5 linked regions of the Homo sapiens genome follow. The protein of the gene in region 2 purifies or fractionates together with the protein of the main gene of each other region. This does not show direct contact. Each region holds a gene or a part of one and is shown on either strand. Other genes may lie near its edges. The genes, in order: HECTD1, CINP, BLK, NSA2 and POTEE.

Region 1 (3,527 bases), about 71 Mb from region 2:
GCCCTCAAAATTAAGTGACATCATTATTTTTTAAATAAAGCCTACTAGCACCTAAAAGCATCTTCTGAGATGCTCAATTTCCAGAGGACATAACTTTCAAATTATATTCAGATTTAGTAGCAAGATCTAGAAATGCCCATAATACATATTTATAACATTAATACATATGATGATCACCTATTTTGATGTGAATACAAAATGCTCATTAGCTAATAACTCATATTACTATTACTTACTTTTTTTTTTTTTTTTGGAGGCACGGTCTCACTCTGTCACCGAGGCTGGAGTGCAATGGCACAATCTTGGTTCACTGCAACCTCCGGCTCCCAGGTTCAAGAGATTCTCCTGCCTCAGCCTCCCAAGTAGCTGGGATTACAGGCACATGCCACAGTGCTCAGCTAAATTTTGTATTTTTAGTTGAGATGGGGTTTCACCATGTTTGCCAGGCTGGTCTTGAACTCCTGACCTCAAGTGATCTGCCCACTTCAGCCTCCCAAAGTGCTGGGATTACAGGCATGAGCCACCGCACCCGGCCATGTTTACATTACTACATTTTAGAACTCGATACATCAGGTAAAAGCAAAAACGAATCTTGAACGTGTTTTACTTTCTGGAGCATTACCTTGATAAGTTCAGGCATTAATAAGAAGCACTGACACATCATAGAAGAAGTTATATTCGTTGAACTTCAGAAAGACACTGTCAAAATGGGTACAAACAGTGGAGAGCCGGCCGGGCGCGGTGGCTCACGCCTGTAATTCCGGCACTTTGGGAGGCTGAGATGGGTGGATCACAAGGTCAGGAGATTGAGACCATCCTGGCTAACACAGTGAAACCTCGTTTCTACTAAAAATACAAAAATTAGCTGGGCATGGCTAAAATAGCACTGCGCTCCAGCCTGGGTGACAGAGCGAGACTCTGCCTCAAAAAAAAAAAAAAAAAAAAGTGGAGAGCCATGTACAATACTAAGTTAAAGGAAAAAGAAATCCTTGACTATTATCCCATTTATTTTCAGAAAAATCCTGCAAGGATGAGGAAACAGACTTCAAAGGCTATCACACAACTATTCAGTGGAAAAGGCAGGTATCTGAACCCAAGTCTATCCCATTGCAGAGGCCACTGTTTCTACCACACCACCTGCCTTTCCTGACTAAACAGATGTGAAACTATTAAGACAAGCTAATTAAGCAAACATATTATCAGGACATACAGGCATGTTTTGGTTTATTAGACAGAACTAAGTCCTATTTGCTACTACTTTATGAAATCAAGGTAGTATGAAAGATTTTTACCAATATTCAAAATATGCACATCATCTTGCTTTTTTTGCCTGCTGGGAGTTGATTGTTTAAAAGAATTTTAAAAGACCTTTCCAAATCAATCACTTTATTCATGGAATAAAGTGCTAAAATAAAATTCAAAATTAGATATTTATTAATGATGGCATCAGTGGGTAGCCCACTTTACTCAAAACACTTAACATACATTCTCTCCTTTAATCCTCACAAGAAGGCCCACTGGAAAAAAGACTACTGGCTGGGCATGGTGGCTCACACCTGTAACCCCAGCACTTTGGGAGGCTAAGGCAGGTGGATCAGGAGATCAAGAGATGGAGACCATCCTGGTCAACATGGTGAAACCCCATCTCTACTAAAAATACAAAAATTAGCCAGGTATGGTGGCACGCACCTGTTGTCCCAGCTACTCGGGAGGCTGAAGCAGGAGAATCACTTGAACCTGGGAGGCGGAGGTTGCAGTGAACCAAGATCGCACCACTGCACTCCAGCCTGGGCAACAGAGCAAGACTTCATATGAAAAAACAGAAAAGAAAAAAAGACTACTGCCATTTTACAGGGGAAGAAAGTAAGGCTCTCAGAGGCTAATGAACACAACAGACCAAGAATCTGAACCCAAGTCTCTGATGCCACAGCCCATTCTTTCCATCTCACTATGCCTCCCTCACTAGTTTCAAGAAGGAACCAGGACAATTTTCCCTTGTAACAACAAGAAAATCTGGCTATAGAATGAAAAGCAAACTAATGTTTAAAAACAAAACAGTCACAAAATTAAACCAAATGTCTAGTTTTTGGAGGTTACTGGTACACTACCCCAAACACGGCTAACCCCTTCAACTTGAAATACTCTTGTATCTTCATATAGTAAATCATATCTGACTTAACTTTAGGTTCATTTCCTTAAAATTACATTATAAAGCCAGGTGTGGTGGCACAGCCTATAGTCCCAGCTACTGAAGAGGCCGAGGCAGGAGAATCGCTTGAACCCAGGAGCTCGAGGCCAGACTGGGCAACATAGTGAGGCCCCAGTCTCTTAAAAATTACATCATACTATATATGAATAAAGCCTAGAAAGGAAAATGGAAAAAATAACAGCTGTTATGTTAGGATGGAAGGATTTTACATAGAGATAAATTTTATGTTTTAAAAATTTCATTTAAATTGTTTTAACATGGCAACACTTTTTTTTTTTATTATACTTTAAGTTTTAGGGTACATGTGCTCAACGTGCAGGTTTGTTACATATGTATACATGTGCCATATTGGTGTGCTGCACCCATTAACTTGTCATTTACATTAGGTATATCTCCTAATGCTATCCCTCCCCCCTCCCCCTACCCCACAACAGCCCCCGGTGTGTGATGTTCCCCTTCCTGTGTCCAAGTGTTCTCATTGTTCAATTCCCACCTATGAGTGAGAACATGCATTTGGTGTTTTGTCCTTGCGATAGCTTGCTGAGAATGATGGTTTCCAGCTCCATCCATGTCCCTACAAAGGACATGAACTCATCATTTTTTATGGCTGCATAGTATTCCATGGTGTATATGTGCCACGTTTGCTTAATCCAGTCTATCATCGATCGACATTTGGGTTGGTTCCAAGTCTTTGCTATTGTGAATAGTGACACAATAAACATACGTGTGCATGTGTCTTTATAGCAGCATGATTATTATAATCCTTTGGGTATATACCCAGTAATGGGATTGCTGGGTCAAACGGTATTTCTAGTTCTAGATCCTTGAGGAATCGCCACACTGTTTTCCACAATGGTTGAACTAGTTTACAGTCAGTCCCACCAACAGTGTAAAAGTGTTCCTATTTCTCCACATCCTCTCCAGCACCTGTTGTTTCCTGACTTTTTAATGATCGGGCAACACTTTTTTAAATGTCATAACAAATACTTCTACTACATATTAGTACTAAACAGAAGCTACGAAATGACAATTGACTTGACTGACAAGTATGATTTTTAAAATACCAAAAGTAACTTTCAGGTTACCTCTAATGAAATCTATGAACGCAATTTTTAACTTGAGAGTCAGGATGAGGAAAAAAATAAAAAATAAAAATAAATTTTAAAAAATCTACTTTACTATAAATCCTGCTAAAACAAGTGTCAACTAAGGGCTAAGTTATTCTTACATACTCAAAATTCTGCCAATGACAAAAACTAATGGAAATAAATGGACCACTAACTAATTGTAATTTGGAAATTTTATTAGTAAGGATTTT
Region 2 (2,581 bases):
CTTAGACCCAAAGACCTGGAGGAATCCCAAGGCAGGCTCTTGCTGCCTTTTTTTTTTTTTCTTTTTTTTTTTGCGACAGGGTCTCATTCTGTGTGGCATGATCATGCCTTATGCAGCCTCAACCGCTGGCACCTCAGCCTCCCAAGTAGCTGGGATCACAGGTGTGCACCACCACACCCAGCTAATTTTTTTTAATTTGTGGAGACAGGGTCTCGTTATGTTGCCCAGGCTGGTCTCTAACTCCTGGGCTCCAGCAATCCTCCCGCCTCAGCCTCCCAAAGTGCTGGGATTATACAGGCATGCGCCACCGCGCCTGGCTGGCTCTTGCTGCTTTTAAGAAGTGAGAGAGAAAGGCATCAAATGAGCTCGTTTCTGATGCTCTCTCTCTCTCTCTTTTATCAAATGAGCTCGTTTCTGAGGCTCTCTGTCTCTCTATCAAATGAGCTCGTTTCTGATGTTCTCTCTCTCTCTCTTTTTTTTTTTTTTTTTTGAGACGGAGTCTTGCTCTGTTGCCAAGCTGGAGTGCAGTGCCAGGCTGGAGTGCAGTGGCGAGATCTCGGTTCACTACAACCTCTGATTCCCTGGTTCAAGCGATTCTCCTGCCTCAGCCTCCCAAGTAGCTGGGATTGCAGGCATGTGCCACCACGCCCAGCTAATTTGTGTATTTTTAGTAGAGACGGGGTTTCACCATGTTGGCCAGGCTGGTCTTGATCTCCTGAACTCGTGATCCGCCCACCTCGGCCGCCCAAAGTGCTGGGATTCTAGGCATGAGACACCGCACCAGGCCTGACTCTCTCTTATTAACTGCCTTTATTTACGGAAACCTCCTTGACTTCCTTGTTTATAAAATGGCAACACAGAAAGGGAGCCCTACACACTTCACGCAGAAAGGAAGGAAACGTGGCAAGCTGCCATTGACGGTCCCTCAGTGTGGACCAGGCTCTGTCCTAAGCCCTGTAACTGCATGATGTGTATGGCTACTTGTGGGAGACACTAAACCAACCCCACTGCACACACCAGGCAGCACAGAATAGGGGCAATGGCGGGCTTACTTTCACAGCTTGGTGAAGAGGATTAAGTGAGTTAGTATTTGTGAAGCACCTACTTGGAGATATATAAGGGTTGGATAAAGAAAATTAATGGGTGAAGTAACTAGGATTTCAGATTTAAGTAGCATAGGTCTATAAAGACCAAATTTTGAACTCCTAAGTATAGTTGACTTTACATACATAAATATGAAAAAGGGGAAATAAGAAAAGATATATAAATTGTCAAATATCTTAATTCCTTTACTTGGTCCTTCCAACCACCCTCCAATTACATTGGAAGTGGCAAGCACTAAATTCAGCTAACGTTAATTTTTAAAGGACTTTACTTAAGTAGTTTCCCAAATCTTTTAAGGTTTGATATTTTATTTGGCCCAACCCCAAGAGGCAGGACTTGTCATTTCCGTTTCACAGCTGGGAAATTGCTTAAGGTTGAGCTGAGGAAGGATGAGGCCAGAACTCGATACCATGCCTTCTGACACCAAGTTTTTTTGTTTTTGTTTTTGTTTTTGTTTTTTTTGAGACAGAGTCTCGCTTTGTCACCCAGGCTGGAGTGCAGTGGCGCGATCTCCGCTCACTGCAACCTCCGCCTCCCGGGTTCATGCCATTCTCCTGCCTCAGCCTCCCAAGTAGCTGGGACTACAGGCGCCCGCCACTGTGCCTGGCTAATTTTTTTGGTACTTTTAGCAGAGCTGGGGTTTCACTGTGTTAGCCAGGATGGTCTCGATCTCCTGACCTTGTGATCCGCCCACCTCAGCCTCCCAAAGTGTTGGGATTCCAGGCGTGAGCCACCGCGCCCAGCCGACACCAAGTTTTAACACCCAATCCTCTGCTCTTTCCTGTGAGTCCTGCAGCAGCTCCCTGGTGCCACCTGATTCTAAGAAAAGCTGATAACAGGAGACTAAGGAAAATTCTGGAGCCTTGACCCCAGGCAAGAAGTCATGCTCAATCCTGCAGCTCAGCCATCAATAAAGAATTCAAGTCACATAGGCACGTGCAGCCCTGAATGAACAGTGCATAAACAGCAGGCCCTTACATTTCAACATCGGTGGCTTCTTCCCACAGCAAACACAGACCACAGTGAAATGTTAGCCCAGCTTAGGAAGAACGGTGCATGAAACCCCCAGAAGGTCAAAGTTATGAAAGACACAGACCAGGTCTGGAAACCATTCTCTATAACGGATAGAGGAAAATAGGAAAAATAATAATACCCTATAAAATCAACTTTTGGTTTTGAACATAGAATGAGAACTTATTCCCAAACCACTTTTCTTTTTCTTTTTTTCTTTTTTTTGACACGGAGTCTCACTCTGTGGCCCAGACTGGAGTGCAGTGGCTTGATCTCGGCTAACTGCAACCTCCGAAAGTGATTCTCCCGCCTCAGCCTCCCAAGTAGCTGGGATTGCAGGCACCTGCCACCACCCCCAGCTAATTTTTTGTATTTTTAGTAGAGATGGGGTTTCACTATGTTGGCCATGCTGGTCTCAAACTCTTGACCTCAGGTGATCCACCTGCCTCGGCCTCCTAGAGTGCTG
Region 3 (3,500 bases), on a different chromosome or scaffold from region 2:
GGATCCCCTGCCTCTGTGGTATGTCTGGACTGCCCTGGGCAGGCAGGGCCTGGCTCTGAGATGAAGATTTCTCAGCACTGAAGGACCGCCTGCCTTTGAGCTGTGAAACTAGTCTATCCTCACATAGACACCAGTAAACTGAGGCTTGAGAGGCTCAAGGACACCCCGGAGGCCACGAAGGGTAGAACTCACTCCCCTGCTTCCATCCCTGTCTTGCATTCACTGCTGTGGCTCGGAGAAGCAGAGGGGTCTTGCTTTGGAGTTGTGTGTGTGTGTGCATATGTACGTGTAAGGTGTGTACATGTGTTGCACACGTGTTCATTGCATCTGTGCATATGTGCACATGTATATGTGTGCGTGTGTGTGTATATGTGCATGCGTGGACATGTGTATGTGTTTGCATGTGTATGTGTGCACACATGCCTGTGTATGCACATGTGTGTATATGTGTGCATTTGTGCATATGTGCATGTGTGTTCATGTGTGCATGTGTATGTGCGTGTGGTGGTGATGATGGTTGAACAGTCCTGCAGCCCTGGTCCCATATGGCCTATTCCCAGCTTGGACTGGCTTCCTGGGGTGGACATGGACAGGAAAAGATGCCAGACTCATAGAGAACCCCTTCTTCCTCCACACCAGATTGGGCAGGGGGTGGGGAGGCTTTCACCTTAGCAATAGGCAATGGTTGAAATATCATTTCCAGGGTGACATGACATGATGTTTGGGATTTACTTCGAAAGAACAGGGGTGGAGCGGGAGATACAGATGAAACAAGACTGGCTCAGTTGATAATTGTTGAAGCTGGCTGTTGGGTACCAGGGGTTCCACTAAACTATTTTCTCTACTTCTGTGTATGTTTGAAATGTCCTGGAACAACAATAAAACACTTATGTCATCTCCAGTGATTCCCAAATTATTTCTTGTACAGAGGTGCTCTGCCACAAAAATGAAATAGTGACAATATCCAATATGAATATAAATATAAAATGCATATATCTATGTGTATGTATATGTATGTATATGCATTCATTGGCATATTCCAAGAAATCCTGCACAGAGCACCCCAGCTTTCCAATGCACCCTTCCTGCTCCCCAACCTGGTCCTGCCCCTTTGTGGGGCACCAAGGCCTCATGATGTCCCCAGAGAATCACAGGGTGCTATGACAGCTTTTCATACTCTGGGTTTCCACTCTGGCTGCTGTTCTTGAGCCACAGATGGAACCAATGGACAGCCCAAGGGTGCTCCCACCAGGTGACAACTCTGTCCATTCTCATCGCCCCAACCACAGGGAACCAGACTCATATTCCAGACACTCTCTCTCCCTTTCCTCCTCTGATGTCACTGTCACCATCTCCTCTCCAGTTAAAATTGGCTACAAGGCTGTACCTGGTCCCTGTGGACAGCTTCCTGATGAGCAAAGCATTCTTCATACTGCCTGGGAAGCCCCTGGGTCACCCTAGCTTGCCACGTTGTAGAGCTTGGGAAGCCTCTCAGCCTCTTAGATGATGTGGTCACTGGTGCTTTGGGCTCTGATGCTTACTGTTGGCCCCCAGCAAGTCACTTCCTGTTTCAGGGACTCCCTTTCCTCATCTGTCAAGTGGATTAGTATCTTACAGACGAAAAGCTAGTGGCCAGTGAGCACCAGGGACCATAATAGGGTTCGGTGCAACACATGCATTAACAGCCCCAAACTGGAAACAACTCAATGCCCACAACATGAGAATGGCTAACTTGACTCTGGAATGGTCACACCCGGGATTCTGTATAGCAATGAACATGAACAGGCTCACCATCCTCAACCACATGAATGAATCTGTTACTGGTTGAATCATGTGCGCTCCCAATTCATATGTTAAAGTCCTAACCCTCGGTCCTGAGAATGTGGCTATATGTGGAGACAGAGCCTTTAAAGGGGTGATTAAGTTAAAATGAGGTCATATGGGTGGGCCCTAATCCAAATTGACAGGTGTCCTTACAAGAAGAGATTAGGACACAGACATGCATGGAGGGACGGCCACGTGAGGACACAGAGAAGACGGCCATCGGCAAGCCAAGGAGAGAGCTCCCGGGAGGAGCCAACGCTGCTGACACTTTGGTCGTGGACTTCCAGCCTCCAGAGCTGTGAGATAATAAGCTTCTGTGGTGGAAGCCACCCAGTCTGTGCCACTTTGTTACGGCAGCCCAGGAAACTAACATAGAATCCCACAAACACTGCTGAGTGACAGAAGCAAGACACACAGAAACAAAAACAGTGATTCTATCTACATCAAGCTGAAAAAACAGACAAGACATGGTGGCGAAACCACAGAGAAGAGCAAGGAAGGATTTCCATCCAAGTCAGGACAGCAGGTAGCTCTTGAGGGTGGGGGTTGAATCAGGAAGGAGCCCAAGTGGGGGAGTGAGGGGGCTCCTGGTGGTCTGGGATGCTCTTTCTCTTGGCTGTCATTACACAGGGATTTGTTTATTATTACCCTATATGATTTAGAATTACACATTCATACTTCATGCAAGCTTTATATGTGTTTTATATTTTACACCAAAAAAATTAAGAAGGAAAGAAAGCCAAATGACAGAGAAAGAGAGAAAACCCCTGAGGGTGATGGCAGCTGTTTTGCTCAGTCAGTGGATTTGAACTCATGAGTGTCTAGACTGGCATGGGCTCCCCTCAATTACCACCCTCTTCTCTTACATCACGGCACAGGCCACTTCCTAACATATGCTACCTGCAGCCTCTGGCTGAGATGATCTTGAAGGATTCTTTGAGCTCCCCCTAATCCTTGATTCCAAAGAGGCTGGTGGTTAAGGGCTCAGGGTTCCCCCTTCCCTGGCCCCCACTGGCCTCGGTGTTCCTGCTGACTGGGCAGCAGGGCCAGTCTGGCGTGGGACCACCCCTGTCCACCCGGCTTCCTGTGCCCAGGTGGTTTCCAGCCGGGACAGGGAGGACTGTGTGGACAGCCCCCATGTCAACTCCCGGGCAGGGCCTGAATTGGGAGGGACACAAGCCCGGAAGCTGCTGGTTCTCCTGGCAGTCACCCCTTCCCCTCTCACTCCAGGGCCAGGCCTCTGGAGGCGCCTTCCCGGGAGGAGCAGGGCAAGGAAGGCAGGCAAAGCCACCAAGCCTACCTTTGTTGGTTTCACTCTCTCTGATAAGAAAGGAGCCGGCCTTGTTGATTGGAGCAAGAAGCTGCCTCTCAGCCTCCTTCCGACCCTGTGATCTAAAGAACCACCTGGAAAACGGCAGGAACAGGTGAAACTCAGAGCGACCCTGCTCCTCGGAGTATTCCCACACAGCCTCCCTCCTGCACTGCCTGTCCCCAAGAAATAAAAATCTAGCATTTCTGGTCCCAGTCGGCCCTGAGCTGCTGCTCCTCACACCGTGATGGAGTCAGTGCCCTCTGCCCCGCTGCCCTTCCAGTTCCGCTTCCTGTCAGCCCTGGACTCACTGTTTTCCTAGAACGAAACAAGAACACTAGTTGGTTGACCTTTGTTAATTTTGCTT
Region 4 (3,527 bases), on a different chromosome or scaffold from region 2:
AGGCTAAGACAGGAGAATTGCTTGTACCCAGGAGGCGGAGGCTGCACAGTGAGCCAAGATTGTACCACTGCACTCCAGCCTGAGCAACAGAGCGAGACTCCATCTAAAAAAAAAAAAAAAAAAAACCACCACATTACAGGTGGTATTTTCTCACCCATAACACAGCATTAAGATTTTTAGCTTAAGCCAACCATTTATTTAACATACCCATGATATATAAACTTGTTCTGTTTAATTTGCAGCTTATGAGACAATACAGACCTCTAGAAGACGGTTGAGCCAAAAATGTGTTGATGGTCAAGCAAAAAAAATAGATCTATTACTTTGTACAACTAAAACATATTTGACTTATTCTCATTGTCCTTTAATAACAATATAAACTTTTAACTGTGGCATATTTTTAGGGAAAATGGGAAGTCCCTCTGCCTAAAGTACGTGCCCAGGGAGAAACAGAAGTATTAAAAGTTATTCGAACAGGAAAGAGAAAGAAGAAGGCATGGAAGAGAATGGTTACTAAAGTGTGCTTTGTTGGAGATGGCTTTACAAGAAAACCACCTAAATATGAAAGATTCATCAGGCCAATGGTAAGTCCTTGGAAGAGTGTAATGACCGAAATGTTAGTTGACTTTATTAAATCGGATAAAGAACATTATCATTTCCTGAAATTCTTTAAATTGATGTGGAACAGGTTGAAAGATATTTTTATGCAATTTTTGTTATTTTATTGACAGAAGTTATTTAGTACTTTTTCCACTAGTCAAAAATCTTTAGCCCAGTGCGGTGGCTCACACCTGTAATCCCAGCACTTTGGGAGGTTGAGGTGGGTGGATCACCTGAAGTTAGGAGTTCAAGACCAGCCTGGCCAATGTAGTGAAACCCTATCTGTACTAAAAAATACAAAAAATAAGCTGGGCGTGGTGGCGGGCGCCTGTAATCCCAGCTACTAGGGAGGCTGAGGCAGGAGAATCGCTTGAACCTGGGAGGCGGAGGTTGCAGTGAGCTGAGATCACGCCATTGCACTCCAGCCTGGGCAAGAAGAGCAAAAATCCGTCTCAAAAAAAAAAAAAATCTTTTCAGCTTCGTGAGAGATTTGAAAAAGTAGTATCATAAGACATTGTCAGTGAATTCTGACTTTTAAACATGACATATTAGAATCTTCATTTTCCACAGTCATATTTTCCTCATTAAACTAGTGATCTACAATATGCCTGATATTGTCTAGGTCTCAAAACACTTCTTGTCTTTGACAGCAGTTCGAAAACTTGAGTAGGACTGTTTTATAAGAGTCAATTCCAGTTTGATAAGGAAAGTATCTAAATGCTTTTGAAAATCATTGAAAAGCCGGGCGCGGTGGCTCACGCCTGTAATCCCAGCACTTTGGGAGGCCGATGCAGGCAGATCACGAGGTCAGGTGATCAAGACCATCCTGGCTAACACTGTGAAACCCCATCTCTACTAAAAAAAAAAAATACAAGAAATTAGCCGGGCATGGTGGCGGGCGCCTGTAGTCCCAGCTGCCTGGGAGGCTGAGGCAGGAGAATGGCGTGAATCTGGGAGGCAGAGCTTGCAGTGAGTGGAGATCATGCCACTGCACTCCAGCCTGGGGGACAGAGCAAGATTCTGTCTCAAAAAAAAAAAAAAAAGAAAAAAAGAAAAAGAAAATCTTTGAAAAAAGGAAGATAATTTAATATAGCTTAATTTCTGTTGAAGGCAGCAATAGTAATGTGACCCCAAACTTCCCCACCCCTGGGGAGAAACATAGTTGAAGATATATTTTTGCAAAATCCCTTCAAAGAGACTGAACTATTCTCCCAGTTAGATACACAGCCTCAAAAAAACAAAGTATCAGAGAGAGGAAAGTTGCAACATGCCATAATCCTAGTGTTCAACCTGAGTAATTTTTTTTTTTTTTTTTTGGGACGGAGTCTCCCTCTGTATCCCAGGCGGGAGTGCAGTGGCACGATCTCGGCTCACTGCAAGCTCCGCCTCCCGGGTTCTCGCCATTCTCCTGCCTCAGCCTCCCGAGTAGCTGGGACTATAGGTGCCCGCTACCACGCCCGGCTAATTTTTTTGTATTTTTTTGTAGAGACGGGGTTTCACCGTGTTAGCCAGGATGGTCTCGATCTCCGTGATCCGCCCGCCTTAGCCTCCCAAAGTGTTGGAATTACAGGCATGAGCCACCGTGCCCGGCCAACGTGAGTAATTTTTAATAGATTAAAATATTGGCAAATAGCCTGTTTCTGTAAATAAAATTTTAATGGAACACAGTCATGCCTGTTCATTTACATATTGCATAACCCCTACCCCTAGAATTGAGCAGTTGCAACAGAGGCCATATGGCCTGACAAAGCCTAAAGTGTTTACCTATTGGGTTCTTTACACAAAATGTTTGCCCACCCCGGATTATATCATGGACTCGACTTGTTTTGGTTTCATATTCATAGTCTGAATATATTTTGGTAGCCTTAACAGTTCTACAGGGAGAGAATATACAAGTCAGGCTATTCTAGGTTTTCTGTAGTTTCACAGATTTGTCATTATAATCAGATGGCATCCTGAATGGTGTCAGTTTCTTACAAGCTTGATTAATGAGTCTGTTACTAAGAAACTGATTTAGTGATTTTTTCCCCCCATCCCCATGCACACAAAAATGAAGACTGCAAAATGTTGTGACGTTTAAAGTACTACACCCTAAAAGACCTTATTAGGTGACTGGGTGACTCCATAACCAGTTTCTGTAACAAAGACTCCTCTGGGTCTCCTCCAGTCTCATATTGCCATCAACCTAAAGAAAGCTGACAGTCCACTCCTTTTTTCATCATGGAAGGTAGCCGAGTTATATAAAGACTTGGAATCAGGATATTAAGGTTTGAGTCTGTTTACCACTCACCATTTAATCTGGAAACAAGTCATTTAACCTGCTGATCCTTGTTACATCATTTGAAAACAGAGGAGAGGGGATGTGTTTGTTGTGAGGTTATTGTGTTTAAGTGAGCCAGTTGTGAGCTAGCATAGTGGCCTGGTATATATAAAGTCCTTAGTAAGTCTAAGTGTAGATGACTAGACAGTAAAAATCTGGGTATGTTGCTAGGTAGCTATTACAGGGTGAAAAAAAAAAAAACTTTTCAGAGGCTAGCTGTGGTGGCCTGTAATCCCAGCACTTTGGGAGGCTGAGGTGGGTGGATACGTTGAGAGCCCAGGAGTCCAAGACCAGCAGGCAACATGGCGAAACCCCATCTCTACCAAAAAAAAAAAAAAAAAAAATAAGCTAGGCATGGTGGTGCGTGCCTGTAGTCCCAGCTACTCAGGAGCCTGAGGTGGGAGGATGTCTTGAGCCCAAGAAGTCCAAGCTGCAGTGAGCCAAGATCACGCCACTGCACTCTGGCGTGGGCAACTGGGCAAGACCCTGTCTCAAAAGAAAAAGAAATTCTTAAGTATTTGTGTGGGTGTTTTCCCCACATATTTATACTGTAACCATCAGCTTTTTACTCTGTAAAACATATTTTGTTAGCTTCTTTAAGATGACA
Region 5 (3,527 bases), on a different chromosome or scaffold from region 2:
TAAGTCAAGTATCTTGGAACACAGCCATGCTTATTCACTTTACAGTCCATAGTGTCAGTTAGCTGGGTGTGATGTTGCACACCCGTGGTCTCAGCTAGTAGAGACTGAGGTCAGAGGATCACTAGAGCCCAGAAAGTCGAGGCTGCAGTCAGCCATGATCACACAACTGCACTCCAGCCTGGGAAACAGAGTGAGACCCTGTCTCAAGAAAATCAATATATGTAGTCCACAAAGCCTAAAATATTTACTAACTAGCTCTTTGCAGAAAAAGCTGGCCAACTCCTGGTTTAGTAGATCAAAGATTCTTTGATGTATTTTAATAAAAGTTTTACCAAATATACTGAAATGTTTATATTAAATATAGATCCCCATGTACAATCGCTTGGCAATATTCAGATTGAGGGTCCAATATTTCAGCACTCAGGCACTGACAACAAAAATTTAGTAACTAGCAATCTTGTTGCTAACAAGGTACAGTGTCAATGTAGCATGTAGCTTCCATTTGCAACACAGCAGATATTACAAGAATTTTAACAAGAACTCTTAAGATGTGTCATCAAACTAAACGCTTTAAATACATTTTAATTGTGAAATAATCAGTATACCCTACATCTAACCTCATTTTTTAAAAATGGTTGCATAATACATTATTTTGGGGATATGGAAATTGAGCTATTTCCTATTGATAAGGAATTAGACTAGCTCCAAATTTTTTACATAATACTATAATAAATGTCCTTATACATAAGTATACATATAACATATCTATACAAATATCCTTTACATGTATTATATATGCTTACTGTTATATATGTGTGTGTGAATATGCTACTCAATTAATGTTCAAAATGTATTTACCAACAGTATATGAAATGTCTTTTTCAATGAAACCATTTCCCCTGCAGCAACACGGATGGAGCTGGAGGCCATTATCCTAAGAAAACTCATGCAGGAACAGAAAATCAAATGCCACATATTCTTACTCATTAGCGGGAACTAAACATGAGAACTCATGGACACAAAGAGGAGAATAACATACACTGGGGCCTACTTGAGGGAGGAGCATGGCAGGAGGGAGACGACCAAAAAACTACCTTTCGAGTATTTTGTTTACTATGTGGCTGGTGAAATAATCTGTACCCCAAGCCTCCATGATACAGTTTACCTATATAATAAACCTGCACACGTACCCCGAAGCTAAAATAAAAGTTCACTGAAAAGAGAAGAAAATGCCTTTTCCCTCACATTTGCCAATACTGGTTATTTTTCAAATAAATTAATGACTGGAAAAAAAACGGTAACTGATTGTTTGCTGATTTTCATTTTTCTGATTAACAGGCAAGGCTCAATATCCTAATAAAAGTATAAAATTTGTTCATCATGAATATTAGCTCAAATTAGGATTAGTTTGGCAGCACAAAGTTACCTCCTGTTCAATGTTGCCATAGGCTTACCTGTGATACTCTTCATTCTCAGTGTCAGGAAATTGCTGGCTTTCAGGTGTTCTGCTCTTCCTTGGAGGAATTAATCCATCATCACCATTGCCAGCAGTGGCACCATTAGTCAGGTTTTCTGGGAATCCGACATGAGTACTTCCGTGCTTCTTCATTTCTTCGATAGCCATAAAATTTTCTAGCTGGAAAATACAGAGAATAAGAAATTATCTACTTTAGGCACATTATCTATTGATAATCAGACTAAAACCAAGAAAGATAAAATAATTGGTCTAAAGCTCCTAAAGTGGCATTACCTAGCATTTTATGGCACCATTCGGGATTATTCCATAATAATGAAAGAATAGCTCTAGGGTTTGCACCTCTTCAAAATTCAATGTACAGAATTCTGAGTTAACTATTTAATTTTTCACTGATGATTTATGCTACTTACATGATAGGATCATGTATGCCTACATTTACTACACTTTGTTAAACAACATAATGTAAAAATCTAATTCAACACAAACGTTTGAATATAAAGGTATACCTCTCTATCACCATCCTTATTTATTTCTGGTTCTTGAGATCTTTTCTGCAGATGTAAAAACAGAAGGTTAATTTGCTTGCTGTATTTCTGTGACATTTCCTCTTTTGGAGTGCATGTTTTTAAAATAATTTTATTCTGAAGTAATCAAGTATGGACAATAAAAATTAGAAAGTAATTAAAATTAAACTGTTAAAATAAATAATAATTAAAATTAAGAATTAACTTTTTAATCTATGTTTAGCTACTGCCACATCACTGGCTTCTAACATGTGAAAAATAATTCACCTTAGACAAAGGGAGAAGAAAAACATGAACCAGCAAACTTAACTTTCTCACTATTTGTTTGGACTAAATTTAATTTGTTATGTGTTAAATCTACCAAAAATGAATCAGCAGATGATTTGTAGTGTTCCAAAATCTTCCTCACTTGAAAAGAGTTTACCTCATGAAACCCTAACTAGTGAGCACCTACAGTGCACTGAAGTGCTTTTTTAAAAGATTCCTAACTGGATTGTAGGCACCCTTTAAACTATTAGGAGCCGAAATCAACACCAAACAGAAAGAAATGCAAATTCTCACATTTTAATTGAAATTATATACTGTCATATGATAGTGTTATGTATCCAGATTATCTGCGTAAGTCCAGTTCTAATATATTCTAATGTGTACTAATGACAGCAGATAAAATTTTTTAATCTCTACTGATTTTCTGCAACTGAAATAAATTAGAATGTTATTGTGTTTGTGCACTAACACCAAAGGTCCCATTCTGCAAGATATGGTTCTTGTAATAGGCAGTTGGGTTGCTTTTATGACCTGGTTCCCTCCCTGAACAGAAACACTGAGGTCAACGAGAGACCACAAGGCAGGATATGTCCTTAACCTTGGTATCAGTGACTGACAATATAAAACTGTGGATTTTCAATCACAGGCCATGATTACTCTTTAACCATGAATCCAGCTCAGGGAATCAGTGTTACATTGTTCATAATTCCTATTGCTTAATAATATGATTCAATCATTGATGTTACTTTCTTTATCATGTTAGGGTGTTGTAAAAATAAAAGAACAAACAAAGTTCTGAAATTTGTTTTTGCCTCTATTCCAAAAGGAGAGATTAGCTATAAGCTAATCAAGAAGGCAGATAAGAATATTTTAAAATAAGAGTATTTTAAATTTTATAGTGGGTTATGTTGAAGTTAAATATCAAATATTAAATTAGAATCTATTGATTCTTCTGTTAATAAGGTTGCTGATTTTATTACAATAAATTTTAAGAATCTATTAAAATTTTTTTTTTTTTTTTTCACATGGAGTCTCGCTCTGTCACCCAGGCTGGAGTGTAGTGGTGGATGTCGGCTCACTGCAAGCTCCCTCTCCTGGGTTCATGCCATTCTCCTGCCTCAGCCTCCCGAGTAGCTGGGACTACAGGCACCCACCACCACGCCCAGCTAAGTTTTTGTATTTTTACTAGAGACGGGGTTTCACCATGTTAGCCAGGATGGTCTCGATCTCCAGACCTCGTGATCCACCTGCCTCAGCCT

What was found.
Region 1: the proteins of CINP (region 2) and HECTD1 purify together in Homo sapiens (co-immunoprecipitation; 3 studies listed by BioGRID and IntAct, with this or other methods). This does not show direct contact.
Region 3: the proteins of CINP (region 2) and BLK purify together in Homo sapiens (affinity purification with mass spectrometry; one large-scale study listed by BioGRID and IntAct). This does not show direct contact.
Region 4: the proteins of CINP (region 2) and NSA2 purify together in Homo sapiens (co-immunoprecipitation; one large-scale study listed by IntAct). This does not show direct contact.
Region 5: the proteins of CINP (region 2) and POTEE purify together in Homo sapiens (affinity purification with mass spectrometry; 2 studies listed by BioGRID and IntAct, with this or other methods). This does not show direct contact.

Annotation. Positions count from the first base shown.
Region 1 is NC_000014.9:31,201,275-31,204,801, forward strand, and holds part of HECTD1 (E3 ubiquitin-protein ligase HECTD1), read right to left. Parts: intron 1-3,527. UniProt on the Homo sapiens protein: E3 ubiquitin-protein ligase which accepts ubiquitin from an E2 ubiquitin-conjugating enzyme in the form of a thioester and then directly transfers the ubiquitin to targeted substrates.
Region 2 is NC_000014.9:102,350,337-102,352,917, forward strand, and holds part of CINP (cyclin-dependent kinase 2-interacting protein), read right to left. Parts: intron 1-2,581. UniProt on the Homo sapiens protein: Component of the DNA replication complex, which interacts with two kinases, CDK2 and CDC7, thereby providing a functional and physical link between CDK2 and CDC7 during firing of the origins of replication.
Region 3 is NC_000008.11:11,549,887-11,553,386, reverse strand, and holds part of BLK (tyrosine-protein kinase Blk), read right to left. Parts: intron 3,229-3,500; coding exon 3,125-3,228; intron 902-3,124; exon of another isoform or gene 1-901. UniProt on the Homo sapiens protein: Non-receptor tyrosine kinase involved in B-lymphocyte development, differentiation and signaling. B-cell receptor (BCR) signaling requires a tight regulation of several protein tyrosine kinases and phosphatases, and associated coreceptors.
Region 4 is NC_000005.10:74,770,227-74,773,753, forward strand, and holds part of NSA2 (ribosome biogenesis protein NSA2 homolog), read left to right. Parts: intron 1-404; coding exon 405-584; intron 585-2,086; coding exon of another isoform or gene 2,087-2,146; exon of another isoform or gene 2,147-2,267; intron 2,268-3,527. UniProt on the Homo sapiens protein: Involved in the biogenesis of the 60S ribosomal subunit. May play a part in the quality control of pre-60S particles.
Region 5 is NC_000002.12:131,251,027-131,254,553, reverse strand, and holds part of POTEE (POTE ankyrin domain family member E), read right to left. Parts: intron 2,029-3,527; coding exon 1,984-2,028; intron 1,637-1,983; coding exon 1,455-1,636; intron 1-1,454.